Regions from separate parts of the Homo sapiens genome. Here region 2 is linked to region 1. A link means that fine-mapping ties the variant in region 1 to the expression of a gene that starts in the linked region. Tissue or cell type: whole blood. Region 1 holds a variant in brackets; the other region holds the start of a gene. All regions are shown on one strand. Distances are between the middles of the regions. Region 1 has its middle 19 kb from the start of GAL. Region 2 holds the start of TESMIN (testis expressed metallothionein like protein).

The links.
Region 2: it holds the start of TESMIN, and the variant in region 1 is fine-mapped to the expression of TESMIN in whole blood (TOPMed, PIP above 0.99).

What each region holds. Positions count from the first base shown.
Region 1 is chr11:68,701,321-68,705,709 of GRCh38, reverse strand. It overlaps a transcript of TESMIN not described here. Among named protein-coding and RNA genes, the nearest start is that of GAL, 19 kb to the right of the region's middle. The variant G/A (reference allele first, on the strand shown) is at 1,699.
Region 2 is chr11:68,749,217-68,753,605 of GRCh38, reverse strand. It overlaps TESMIN (testis expressed metallothionein like protein), which reads left to right and starts at 2,086. Exons shown (of 10, transcript NM_004923.3): 1 at 2,086-2,186; 2 at 2,907-3,416. The coding sequence starts at 2,946. RefSeq lists silencers at 1,854-1,973, 1,984-2,273 and an enhancer at 1,974-2,959.

The DNA.
Region 1 (4,389 bases):
AATAACTCGGACCACCTTTGTGATTAAGGTTAGATTATCTGTTGGTTTTGGGTTTTTGTTTTGTTTATCCGAAAGAAAAAAAAACCTTGTTTTTTCATAGACACGGAGAAGAAATCATTGTTTAGAATGACACGCGCTGAAATCGCTCTTTCCTGTCAGTGAACACAGGCTGCGCACTGCACAGAAAGTCTGGCGGCCAGGGAGCATCCTTAGGAGAGAAGGTGCTGTTGGCGGCGGAAGGTCAGCAGAAGGCTTGGTGTATTTTTCATCTCGGCTTGGATGCTCCTATCCCTTTACAAACCTCTCACCAGTACCTGAAGTTCTGCCAGCACTGGTCCCCTTTCAGTGTGGGCGCGGTTTCAAACCATAATAAACAAGTTATCGTAAGGAGTCAGTTAAAATACTGTCTTAGGGAATTCAAAGGTTGAACCCTCATCCAAGATAAAATGATCAGAGCAGCCAGAGGATCCAGAGAGCAGGAGGGGGCGCAGAAGACGAAGCAGGGAGGAGGCCTCCCGTTCTGCAGGCGGCGCGCTCTTTAGGAAGGCACCGGGCACAGCTTTGTGCATGGGGCCGGCTGTGCGGTCTCCGTGCTGCACTCTCTCCCCAGGAGTCCTTAGCCTCAGAGGAGGGAGGAAGCACGACAGGAGGGATCACCGTGAGGCATCTTCCCCCAGCCCTGCCTCCATCCTGCTCCCAACCCCCGGCCCCCGGCAGAGACTGGAGAGCCACAGGGAGCACTGCCCGGCCCCAGCCACCGATAAAACTGGAATTGAAGACTGTCATTGCATGGATGTTCTCTTCATATATTTAAAAATGACTATCAGGAAAAAGTTTGAGCCTCCTAAAAATGGTAGCTGGTTTGTTTTTCAACAACAAACTTTAATAAAAACTTTAATGTTTGATATTTTAAATTTTGCCTTGACTTTCAGGAAATTCAAAAGTAAATCTATTCAATACCAGAAATCACATTAGCCCAGGTTTAGGATTAACTGTCCCTCTCTTTTTTCCATAAAGCTTTACTTTTTTAAACATGCTTTTTATTTGTACTATTACATACATCTTTTACTGTAAACCATTTCATATGTTTGTTGGAAATAGATGGACTATAGAAACATTATTACCGAATTATGAAGACAGAGTCTGCAGTGACAACCTTTTTAATGATGATTCCCTAGAAATATATATATTTTAATAGAGGCAGAGTCTCACTCTGTTGCCTATGCTGTAGTGCTGTGGTGCGATCATAGCTCACTGCAGCCTCAAACTCCTGGCTTCAAGCAATGCTCCCAGGTAGCTAGAACTACAGGCTCACACCATCATACTCAGCTAAGTTTCTGTATTTTTATTTTTTGTAGAGACAGGGTCTTGCTATATTGCCCAGGCCTCAAACTCCTAGCCTCAAATGATCTTCCCTCCTTGACCTCCTGAAGCACTGAGATTACAGGTGTGAGCCACCATGCTGGGTCTCTATTTATTTATTTTTTTTACTAGAGTATTTTTTAGGGTAGTTTTAGGTTCACAGCAAAACTGAGCAGAAAGTGCAGAGATTTCCCATATAATCCATGCCCCCCAACACCGCAGCCTCCCCACTACCAACATTCCTCACCAGAGCCGTCCTTTTGTTACAACTGATGAACCTACAGTGATACACCATCATCCAAAGTGATACACCACAAACCCAAAGCCCATGCTGAC[G/A]TTAGGATTCCCTCTCGTTATTCCACATGCTATGGGTTTTGACAAATGTACAATGGCACATATCCAGGGTTACAGCACACAGAACAGTCTCACTGCCCTAAACCACCCCTGTGCTCTGCCTGTTCATCCTTCCCTCCCCACAACTCCTGGCAATCACTGATATTTTCACTCTCTCCACAGTTTTACCTTTCCCAGAATGTCACTTAAGTGGGATCATACAGTAGGTCGCCTCTTCAGACTAGCTTCTTTCACTTAGTAATATGCATTTATGTCCTTCATATCTTTTCATGGCTTGATAGCTCATCTCCTTTTAGCACTGAATAATATTCCATTGTCTGGATATACCACTGTTCATCCCTTCCCCTCCTGAAGAACATCTGAGTTGCTTCCAAGTTTGGGCAACTCGGAATAAAGCTGCTGTAAATATCTGTATGTAGGTTTCTGTGTGGATGCAAGTTTTTAATGCCTTTGGGTAAACATCAATGGATTTACCCAATGATTCTGGATCATGTAATAAGAATATATTTAGTTTTGCATGAAACCACTATCTTCTTCCAAAGAAGCTGTTTCATTGAGTATTCCCACCAGCAGTGAATGAGAGTTTCTGTGGCTCCGCCTCCTCACCAACACATAGCGTTGTCAGTGTTTGGGATTTTGCCGGTTCTAATAGGTGTGTACTGGTATCTCATTGCCATTTTAATTTGCAGTTCCCCAGTGACATATGATGTTGAGCATATGTCCATATGCATACTTGCCAACTGCATATCTTCTTTGGTGAGATGTCAGTTGAGGTCTTTTGCTCATTGTTTAATTGGGTTGTTTCTTTTCTTATTGTTGGGTTTTAAGAATTCTTTGTATATTTTGGATAACAGTCCTTTATTAGATACGTCCTTTGCAAATATTTTCTCCCAGTCTGTGGCTTGTCTCCTCACTCTCCTGACAGTGTATTTTGCAGAACGGAAGTTTTTAATAAAGTCCAGCTCATCAATTTTTTTTTTCGTGGATCATGCCTTTGGCATAGTGTCTAAAAAATCATTGCCATATCCAGACCATCCATACTTTCTCCTGTGTTATCTTCTAGGGATTTTATTTTATTTTATTTTATTTTTGAGATGGAGTCTCTCTCTGTCCCCCAGGATGGAGTGCAGTGGGGCAATCTCAGCTCACTGCAACCTCCGCCTCCTGAGTTCAAGTGAGGCGACCCTCCTGCCTCAGCCTCCTGAGTAGCTGGGATTACAGGCGCCTGCTACCACACCTGGCTAAGTTTTGTATTTTTAGTAGAGACGGGGTTTCACCATGTTGGCCAGGCTGGTCTCGAACTCCTGACCTCAAGCAATCCTCCCACCTTGGCCTCCCAAAGTGCTAGGATTACACGTGTGAGTCACTGCACCTGGCCAATCTTCTAGGAATTTTATAGTTTACAACTTACATTTAGGTCTATGATCTATTTTGAATGAATTTTTGTGAGAGGGATAAGAGGCTTTATCTAGTCTTTTTTTGCATATGAATGTTCAGTTGTTTTGGCACCTTCTGTCAGAAAGGCTGTCTTTTCTCCATGGTATTGCTTTTGTTCCTTTGTCAGATATCAGTTGGCTCTATTTGTATGAGTCTGGGCCCTCTATTCTGTTCCATTGATCTATTTTTCTATTCTTTTACTAACACCACACCATCTTGATTACTGTAGCTTTATAGTAGCCTTCCAACTTTGTTCTTTTCTTTCCATTTTTTTTTTTTTGGCTATTCTGGGTCTTTAGGCTCTCCACATAAACTTTAGAATCAGGTTTTTTGTTTGTTTGTTTGTTTGTTTGTTGTTTTTGAGACAAGATCTCACTATGTTGTCCAAGTTGGAGTGCAGTGGCATGTGATCATAGCTCATTGCAGCATTGACCTCCCAGACTCAACTGATCCTCCTGCCTCAGCCTCCTGAGCAGCTGGGACCACAGGTGTACATCACCATGCCTGGCTAATTTTTTTTATTATTTATAGAGACAAGGTCTCACTATGTTGCCCAGGGTGGTCTCAAACTCCTGGGCTCAAGCGATCCTCCTGCCTTGGCCTCACAGAGTGCTGGGATTATAGGCATGAGCCACCATGCCTGGCCCAGGAATCAGTTTTTTGCTATCCACAAAATAACTTGCCAGAATTGTTATTGGAATTGTGTTGAATTTATACATCAGATTTGGAAGAACTAATATTTGACAATATTGAGTCTTCCTATCCACAAGCATGGAATATTTCTCCATTTATTTAGCTCTGTATTTATTTCTTTCATCAGAGTTATATAGTTTTCCTCATATAGGTTTTGGTAAATGCATGCCTAAGTATTACATTTTTGGGAGGTGCTAACGTAAGTGGTATTGCATTTTTAATTTCAAATTTTACTTGTTCATTGCTGGTATATAGGAAAGCTATTGACTTTTGTTTATTAACCTTGTATCCTGCAACTTTGCTATAATTGCTTATTAATTCCAGGACATTTGTTGTTGTTGTTGATGATACTTTTAGAGTTCTACATAGATGATCATGACGTCTGCAAACAAAGCTTTATTTATTCCTTCCCAATCTGTAAACTTCGTATATCCTTTTCTTATCTTATTGCATTAACTAGGCATTCCAGTACAATGTTTAAAAGAGTGATGAGAGGGGACATCTTTGGCTTCTTTTCTCACTATTAATTATGATATTAGCTGT
Region 2 (4,389 bases), 48 kb before region 1:
GTTGACCCACTTAGAGTGGGTTGAGCTGAGACCTGAGAGACTCGACGGAGCCAGCCCGGCCAGTGCAGCAGGGCAGCAAGCATCTAGGAGCAGCAGGTGCAGAGCCTCCAGGCTTGATTGCAACCCGTGGGTGACCCCCACAGGTGGCTGTGTATGCCTGGCATGATGCTACTCAGTAGACGTCTGATTCTGATTAGTAAACGAATGAACGGTGCAACCTTGTGGGTTACTCTCTCGCTTGGGCCACTCAAGCTATGCATAATTCTTGGGCTCTTCGATTTATTATTTTTATTATTTTTTCTGCTTCTGTGAGTGTTTTTTGTTGTTGTTGTTTTTGTTTGTTTGATTTTTGAGATGGAGTTTCAATCTTTTTGCCCAGGCTAAAGTACAATGGTGCAATCTCAGCTCACTGCAACCTCCGCCTCCCAGGTTCAAGCAATTCTCCTGCCTCAGCCTCACAAATAGCTGGGATTGCAGGTGTGCACCACCATGCCTAGCTAATTTTGTATTTTTAGTAGAGACAGGGTTTCACCATGTTAGTCAGGCTGGTCTTGAACTCCTGACTTTAAGTGATCTGACCACCTTGGCCTCCCAGAGTGCTGGGATTACAGGCATGAGCCACCACGCCCAGCCCCAGGCAAAATTTTCTTGATTTTTGAATGTTAAATGTACAACTAAATAGTACACGGTGTTGCTGTGCCTTGGGTACTACCCTTTAAAAATTTAGAAAAGTATTTAATTTTTAAAAGTGAGATTAGAAAGCTGATGTTTTACATTCTTTATTTTTACCAAAACAGTACCTGAGTAGACAGTACCTGAGGCTGTCTCCCCAGCACCCACTCCCACCAGTCCCTCTACACCCTTTGCAGTTTTCGCCATCACTTGAATTAAACTTTCACCTCCTCTTGATTAAACAGTGATATCTATTGACTCCTTAAAGATGAAATAGCTCATTCCCCACCCAAAATTTGAGACTTTCATTGTATTTGTGAGTTTTTTTTTTTTTTTCTGAGAGGGAGCCTTTCTCTGTTGGTCAGGCTGGAGTACAGTGACACAATCTCAGCTCACTGCAACCCCCATCTCCCAGGTTCAAGCCTCAGCCTTCTATGTAGCTGGGACTACAGGCGTGCGCCACTACGCCCAGCTAGTTTTTGTATTTTTTAGTAGAGACGGAGTTTCACTATATGTTGGCCAGGCTGGTCTCGAACTCCTGACCTCAGGTGATCCACCCGCCTCGGCCTCCCAAAGTGCTGGGATTACAGACGTGAGCCACCACGCCCAGCCGTATTTGTTACTTCTATTTCGGGACCAACTCCATCAGTTGCACCTGTAAGCTGCGTCACCAAGGACCGGGAGTGGGTGCAAGGCTGGGAACGTGCGGTGCAAGCCCCTGCCCTCTGTCCACCCGCAGCGTCCCAGGCCGGGATCTGTCTTGAGAGCTCGAGTGTAGAAAAATGTTTTATTTTATTTTATTTATTTTTTTGAGACGGAGTCTAGCTCTGTGGCACAGGCTGGAGTGCAGTGGCGGGATCTCGGCTCACTGCAACCTCCACCTCCCGGGCTCAAGCGATTCTCCTGCCTCAGCCTTCCAAGTAGCTGGGATTACAGGCGCGTGCCACCACGGCCAGCTAATTTTTGTATTTTTAGTAGAGACGGGGTTTCACCATGTTGCCCAGGCTGGTTTTGAACTCCTGACCTCAAGTAATCCGCCTGCCTCGGCCTCCCAAAGTGCTGGGACTACAGGCGTGAGCAACCACGCCTGGCCAGAAAAATATAACTGAAGCCCAAGGTCAGAAGCCAAGCTAGGCAGTCCCACTTAGCGCTGCCCGAGTTGATGGGGACCTCAGTTTCCCCACCTGAGCCTGGATCGGCTGAACCTGGGAGTGCCTCCCCTGACCCGCTCTGGCAACAGCGGCAGTCCAGGCCCCGCCCCTCGCGACTCTGTCTCCTCCCGCCCCAGACCACGCCCACCACACCTCCCTGGCCCCGCCTTTACCTCCCCGCCCCGACCTCGACTCCGCCCCACGCCCAGGCCCCGCCCACTGCCCGGGCGCCTCTTCCCCTCCCCCCAGGTTCCTGTCCCTCACCCTTCCCCCTTCTCCAACCGCCAACGGCCGCCTGCGCCTGAGGCCCGGCCCACGCCCCATCCCGCTCGCTCCACGCTGCGGCAGCCCCGGCGGCCCCAGGTGCGTCCCTCCGAGGAGGAATGACGGGGCGGTCCCCGGGCTGGGCCTCGGCTCTGCAGGCGGGGATGGGGGCTGCCGGGCCGGGTCGGGCCCCTGCGGGTGGGCGGAGGGCGGCGGGCCGTGGGCGAGGCCGCCCCTCACCTGGTCGCACCTCACCTGGCCCCCCCTCCCCTGGCTGCTCCTCACCTGACCCCCTCCTCGGCCGCCCCTCACCTGGCCCCCTCCCCTGGGCGCCCCTCACCTGACCCCCACCCCGGCCGGCCCCTCTCCTGGCCGCCCCTTACCTGGTCGCCCCTCCCCTGACTCCCTCCCCTGGTCGCTCCTCACCTGGCCGCCCCTCACCTGGCCCCCTCCCCTGGCCGCCCCTCCCCTGGTCGCCCCTCCCGTGACCCCCTCCCCGGCCGCCCCTCCCCTGGTCGCCGCTCACCTGACCGCCTCCCCTGGTCGCTCCTCACCTGGCCGCCCCTCACCTGGCCGCCCCTCACCTAATCGCCCCTCATCTGGTCGCCCCTCCCCTGACCCCCTCACCTGGTCGCCCTTCCCCGGGCCCCTCACCTGGCCCTCCCTCACCAGGCCGCCCCCTCCCCTAGCCGCCCCTCACCTGGTCCCCTCCCCTGGCCGCCCCTCCCTTGGCTGCCCCTCCCTTGGCTGTCCCCTTTCCTGGCCGCCCCTCCCCTCGTCCTCTCCTCTGGCTGCCTCTCACCTGGCCGCGTGTTGCAGGTGCGCGGCCCCCGCCATCCCGCCCCGCCGCCCTGCGCCATGGAGGAGGGCCCTCTGCCGGGCGGGCTGCCCAGCCCCGAGGATGCGATGGTGACGGAGCTCTTAAGCCCCGAGGGTCCGTTCGCTTCGGAGAACATCGGCCTGAAGGCCCCCGTGAAGTACGAGGAGGACGAGTTCCACGTCTTCAAAGAAGCGTACCTGGGCCCGGCGGACCCCAAGGAACCCGTCCTGCACGCGTTCAACCCCGCGCTGGGCGCCGACTGCAAGGGCCAGGTCAAGGCGAAGCTCGCGGGGGGCGACAGCGACGGCGGGGAGCTCCTCGGGGAGTACCCCGGGATCCCAGAGCTCAGCGCGCTGGAGGACGTCGCGCTCCTGCAGGCCCCGCAGCCGCCCGCCTGCAACGTGCACTTCCTGTCCTCGCTGCTACCCGCGCACCGCAGCCCGGCGGTGTTGCCCCTGGGCGCCTGGGTCCTGGAAGGAGCCTCCCACCCGGGCGTCCGCATGATCCCAGTAAGAACCGCCTGGGGAATGGGCACAGCTCCCCCTCCATCCCTTCCCCAACCCATCTGAGGCTGCTAGTGTACCCCAGGATTTCCCTCTACAAGCATTTTCCCTGGTGACACCACACACAGCCCACCGGAGTCACTGATTCTCGGTAGAGCGTATACTCTTTGTCGTCTTCCTAATCCAACATGCATCGGCCCAGCCAAGCCCTTTCCCCTGGAGGGAATTCTGCCCTGCACCAGTCGTCCAAAGCTGACCTAACCATGCAGACGGCGGACAACAAAAAAAGGGGGAAAGCTAGGACGTAGGTTCCCTTGGGCCCTGTTGCTATCCTTGGCTTAAGGAGAGAGGCCCGCTGTCTGCTGGTAACTATTGTCTGTGAAAACAAACGCAATGTGGTGGAGGGTTGGCGTGTTTGCATCTTGCATTTTTTTTTTCCTTTAACTTTACCAGGCTTGGAATCCACAGCAAGGACTCAGAGTTAATACTTGGATTTTCCGGGCCTTGAAGTCAAGATGTGAGATCTTCCCTTTGCTAATGAGTAATAGCTCTTCAAGCATATGCAATGTAAATCAGAGCCTAAAGAAATGCTTGCCAGCTCTCAGCCGACTGCCCTCTCTAGCTGTAGATGACCGCTGATAATTTTCCGCTTTGTTCTTGCCAAAACTAATGAGTTTTCAAAGGAAACAAAGGGTCCCAGGAAAATGTGTTCTCGACCCCTCAAAAAGGACCCAGCTCAGAAAACGAGACCACTCATCCATGAGGTCATTTTAGTAAGTTGTAGATGAAGCGTTTGTGGGACACAATGCTTGAGTCAGTATTGAGATGGCTGGAGCCTGACCCTGTATCATAAGCCAGAGCAGCAGGAGCTTGGATTTCTGCTCTTCCGGTTTTCTGTTATGGTAATTGCCAGTCCTTAGTGTACAGGAAAAGGATGGGCAGAGGCTGGGGCCTCCACTGACCTCTGTTTGTCCTCAGA